Linked DNA regions of Homo sapiens: region 2 is linked to region 1. Evidence: fine-mapped expression QTL. A gene starts in region 1. The other region holds a variant in brackets. All regions are shown on one strand. Distances are between the middles of the regions.

Region 1 (2,500 bases):
AGAGACCCAGCAAGGGGCTAAGGAGGACACCAGGGGAGAGTGTGTGTATTTGGTGGGAATGGGGTGTCAGTGACCACCCTGGGTCCCTGGGCAAGTCTGCTCTTGTGGCATACTGCAGGCAGAGAGCGATTCTGGAGTGACAGGGGCGGAGCTGGCCTATAGGAAGATATCCTCATCTCTAGAATAGGGCCCAGCCTAATATGAAACGCCCTTACAGAAACCCAATCTCTTGGGGCAGCTTACACCACAGGTGTCCAAATTCCCTGCCCACGATAGTAATAATGTCTCACACTTCTTGAGCTCTTCACTAGGCACCATACCCGGCCTATTTCACGTAATCTCCGCGAGCATCCTACAAGTTGAATATAATTACTGTGTCCATTTACAGATGAGGAAACCATGGCCGAGAGGAATGAAGTAACTTCCCCAAGATCACTCAGCAAGTGCTCATTTCAGAAACGCACAAACTGAAATTGGAACGATACAGAGATTAGCAATGTTTTAAATAAAAAATAAAATATAAAATAAAAGACCACTCGGAGCGACGGAATTCAAAGCTTGGTTCATGTCTAAACACTACCATCCTGCCCCCTAACAAGGCAGAGGAGGAGGTAAAGCCCAGCGACAGCGGAAACTGAGCACCTAGGTGTGCAGGAGACGTCGTCTGGTGGACTTCTCCTCGCCACGCAGGAGGCACGTGCATCCACCAAAGAGGAAACCAAGACGGAGCGGGGAAGCGTCTCGCTCAGGGGCATCAGCAAGTAACTAGCAGGGACCAGACCCGGAATCCAGGTCTCCCAACCCCGACTGCAAATCCTAACTACTTAAGCTCCACAGGCCGATGCAGAGGCAGTCAGTCCTACCGGGTAGGCGTGGTGGGCGCGGCCAGCGCGTTCACCTCAGCCTAGCCAGCCGGCCAGCGGACGCACAGCGGGCAAACCGCCCAGCCGGTGCACACAGGTGAGCCAGGTGGCACTCGGTCGGTCGACAACCGGCTCTCACACTCCCGAAAGGGCGGCTGAAAATTCAGGCTGAGCTCTGGCCGCCCGAATGTGAGGTAGAAAGACAAGGAGTCCGCGCGCGCTCACCCGCGCACTCCCTGGAGCGGCTAAGTGTGGACCCAACCCCGGGCCAGTGAGGGGGCGGCCGGATTGTGGGTCCCCACCCCCATCCCCGGGCCCTACTGGGGTCACTCACCCAGAACACGGTGGAATAGATGATAAGTGAAAACTTGAGCCAGAGGTAGGAGAAGCGCGCGCAGTAGCGCACCTGCTCCGAGTCCCCGCGCGGCATCCTGGGCGCTCCCCGCGCGGGTTACGGGGGCTCCGGGGCTCTCCGGCTCGGTCCCTCAGCCAGCGCTCGTGGCCCCACCTGCGGCTGCCGGGCTACCAGCCCCGCCACCGGCGTTCTCTCCGGGACTGACACTGGAGCGCGGCAATCACAGCCCCAGCCGGGAAGCCTGCCAGCCCTGGCGGCCAATGGGAGGCCGCGGCTGCCTAGCGTCTGGGAGGGGGCGGGCCAGGGGCGGGGCTGCTGCCCTGGGCCCTAGAGGGGACCAAGAAGGGATGGGAGGGGGAGACGGTCTTGCAAATGAGCTCGCGTGCAACTCTGGAAACGCCTGTGCTAATGCAGGGGGCGTGGGAGAGGTGAACCAGAGGTGCTCTAAGGAGAGAGCGAGCGTGCCTAATCGGGGTACATAGAAATGCAAGCTTTCCTCTTGTCAAGAGGGAAAACTTTGGGAAAAGGGCAAGAATTAATCGCCCAGGTGTTGAAAGTGCAAATGAGTGTGCTAAACGTGAATGGAATAAGGAAGTGGAGTTGCTCGGCTCAGGAAGGCTCAGGGAGGCAGACCAGGGTGGGGCTAATAGGCCCCCATGGAGCTGGAGTCTGAAGTTTGCTCGTGAAACAGATCTGCTGAAGGCCTTCACCAAACGACCTCGGAAGTCCCCTTCTTTTGCCAGGTGATAACCCAGCCTTGGGAAGGGTTCCTCCCGGGAAACCCCATCTTCAAACTAGGTTGAAGGCCTGGCGCGGTGACTCACGCCTGTAATCCCAGCACTTTGGGAGGCTGAGGAGGGCGAATGGCTTGAGCCCCAGGAGTTCAAGACCAGCCTGGGCAACATGGCAAAACGCCGACTCTATAATTAAAAAAAATAAAAAGCCAGGCACGGTGGCGCGCCTGTTGTCCCAGCTACTTGGGAGACAGGCGGGAGAATCGCTTGAGTCAGGGAAGTCAAGGCTGCAGTGAGCCGTGATTGTGCCAGTGCACTCCAGCCTGGGAGACAGAGTGAGACCCTCTCTCCAAAACAAAAACAAAAACAAGGCCGGGCACGGTGGCTCACGCCTGTAATACCAACACTTTGGGAGGCCAAGGCGTGCGGATCACTTGAGGTCAGGAGTTCGAGACTAGCCTGGACAACGTGGTGAAACCCTGTCTCTACTAAGAAATACAAAAAAAATTAGCCGGGCAGGGTGGTGCATGCCTGTAGTCCCAGCTACT
Region 2 (3,017 bases), 51 kb before region 1:
CCACTGCTCCACCAGCGGAGAGTGCTGCCAAAACTTCCTTCTTGGGAAGAGAGGTGCTCTCCAGAACTCCCGACTACTGATTAATTTAGGCATAGGGAAACCTGTGGTCACGCCCTAGACCTCATCAAACCCCTCCCCAGGCAGGCCCTAACTCACAGGCTGCCGCGGGCACTTCCCATCACCACCTGTGCCCCGCAGGGTCTCCTTCTCCAACCACCAGGGAAGAGAGTGAGACTTCCTGGTCCAGCCCATGACCGTCCCCCCCAGCCCCGCTGCTCTACATGTAAGTGAACGCTGCCGTGAGTGCTGCAGGCGCCAGTGATGACTCAGGAGGGCAACAGCAGAGCCCCCAGCGTGCCCTCTGGTGTCACATTTCCTGGGTCCAGATCTTGCTCTGCCACTTAGGAGCAGAGCCCAACCTTAGGTGGGCTGCTAAGGAACTGGCACGCAGAGGTACTCAATACATATTTGTTAACTGAGAAAATGAATGAATGAATAGGTTGTGATGATCACAGAACCCACCTCCTAGGGCTGTTTTGGACATAAAGTGAGATACACATATAAAGTGCTTATCACGGGGCTGGGCACATGGAGGAGCACAAGAATGCTGGCTGGCGTGATTTGTTCACAATTCCAGCCCCTGCAAAGGAAAGGGAGGGTGTCTTCTCTCCTTCCGAGAGAGGGTTGGGCCTCAGATGTCATCTAGGTCATTCTAAATGTCAGGGCTTGATGTGCAGGCAAGACGACCTCCCTCGGTTTAGCTGGTTCTCCAGGTAGCCTCAGTCCCAGCCATGCCCAGTGCCCACTGGGCATTAGTCAGCCAGTGTTTTTGGCCCTTCCAGGCCATAAACACAACCCCTATGGAGAGGGTCAGGCCTGGAGAGCAGGTGCACGGGCACATGATGGGAGTGAGTGCTTTCCATCTCATTGGTTCATTCATTTGTTCATTGAACAAATATTAACTGAGCACCTATTGCATGTCAATCCCAGTTCTAGTCACTTGAAATACAGAACAACAAGACAAAGTCCCTGCCTTCATGGAACTTACACTGTAGAAAGGGAGATAATGAACATAACAAATAGGTAAGCTGCATGGTACGTAGGGAGGTGACAAGAGTGACTTCACTGGGCCAGCTCTGGTGACCTCGGGGGATGAGTCTCTTAGCACACAGGCAACTGGCAGAGGCCTCTCTGGCATCAGAGCCCAGAACCCTTCTCCAGGCCCAGGGGGGACTCACCTCACCCTGCCAGGAGAGCCCCTCACCAAGGGGTGAGGGGATACGATGCATCCATAGTCTTTCCAAAAGTAAAGCCTGCCTGGGTTTACCTGCCTGACCATAGAATCGATATTCTGCAAGAGGCTCTGCTGAAGTTCACAGGCCCCAAGACCAGGGTCCAGTAGCCTCTTCCATCCTGCACGGGGCCACAGGACAGGAAGTCAGAAGGGGGACTCCTGGGCAGCCAGAAGATCACAGCAATGTTTGTGTGTGCATCCTCTCACCCTGAAAAGACTGAGCAGCTAATGGGGACAGGGAGAGGGGCCTTCGCGACAGGCCCCCAAGGGGTAGCCAACAACAAGGGAGGGGAGGTACGTGAAAATTGGTCCCAAGAGCTCAGCAGGCACAGCAGTCTGGAGCCATTTAATGTAGAAGCACGCTGCCCTCTGCA[C/A]CAACATCTCCGAGGGATATATCCTGGTATAACCAGATTTTACAGCCCTATGTGAACTTCTATGGCTCAAATCCTCTATTGGAAGCTCATATAAGACATTTCTTTTAAAGCTGAGTGTTAGGGAAAAGGTTACTTTCCCTGAAGAACTGGTATGTTCTGCTGGTATGTTCTGCTGAACAGTAACAATGTAACAGACCATGTCTCCCTTTTCCTTTTGGTTGCCAGGAAACTCTAAGCCAGTGGTCTCCAACCTTTCTGGCACCAGAGACTGGTTTCAAGGAAAATAATTTTTCCACAGGATGGGGTGCGGGGGGGTGGGGGGTGATGGTGTCGGGATGAAACCATTCCACCTCAGATCATCAGGCATTAGTTTGATTCTCATAAGGAGCATGCACCCTAGGTCCCTTGCATGCACAGTTTACAATAGGGTTCACACTCCTATGCGACTCTAATGCTGCTGCTGATGTGACAGGAGGTGTAGCTCAGGTGGCAATGCTCCCTCAACCTCTGCCCACCTCCTGTTGTGCGACCTGGTTCCTAACAAGCCACTGACCGGTACTGGTTCATGGCCTGGAGGTAGGGGAGCCCTGCTCCAAGCCACCAGACACGAGGCTCAGCTCCTTTTCAGTGAGTCCATGAGGTCCTGAGGCTTAGATAGCAGGATTTTATATTTTTCTCCATCATCTAGGCCTCCTATCTGAGAATACAATTCCCACAGTCCTGATTTTTAATGCTATTTTAGTTTTTTACACTACATATTTCCCGTGTACTCATTCAAATCCCAGGTTGAATAGTACAGTGTAAAATAAATAGATCTGGACACAAATCAACCAGTTCTATGGAGGAAGCGAACGCCCTGTTTCACATTTAGAGAAAATCATCCAGGTGTGGTGGCACAGGGAGACTCAATGGTCATGTGTAACACAGGGTCAGATAACCCCGGCCAGGGGAAGGCTCCTCCCTACCTCAGTGCTCTCATTCAGATGCTGTCTTTAGATTCTACCCTATCTGCAGATGATGTCCGTGTTTACACCCCTTGCCTAGTCGTTCCCAGAACTCCAGACTCCTATATCCAACCGCATCTTTGACACCCCTGATGGGATGCTGAACAGGCTCTCAAACCCCCCACGTCCACGGTGAGCTCCTGGTCACCCAGCCTGCCTCCTTGCAGTCCTCCCCTCTCAGGCAGTGGCAGCCCCGTCTTTCCTGTGGCTCAGACCAAAACCTGGGTATCCTCCTTGATTTCTCTCTTTCATTCATCGCCCACATCTGCTATGCGAGCAAATCCTGTAGGCTTACTTGCAAAATACAGCCAGAATGTCACCACGGTTTGCCACTTCCACCACCAC

What was found. PIP is the estimated chance that this variant, and not a neighbour inherited with it, causes the effect.
Region 2: its variant is fine-mapped to the expression of TSPAN15 in esophagus muscle (GTEx, PIP 0.92).

What each region holds. Positions count from the first base shown.
Region 1 is chr10:69,450,388-69,452,887 of GRCh38, reverse strand. It overlaps TSPAN15 (tetraspanin 15), which reads right to left and starts at 1,423. Exons shown (of 8, transcript NM_012339.5): 1 at 1,198-1,423. The coding sequence starts at 1,293. RefSeq lists enhancers at 403-903, 1,695-1,834, 1,784-2,401, 2,402-2,500 and a silencer at 1,265-1,574.
Region 2 is chr10:69,500,944-69,503,960 of GRCh38, reverse strand. All of the region lies in intron 5 of TSPAN15 (tetraspanin 15), which reads right to left. Among named protein-coding and RNA genes, the nearest start is that of TSPAN15, 51 kb to the right of the region's middle. The variant C/A (reference allele first, on the strand shown) is at 1,669.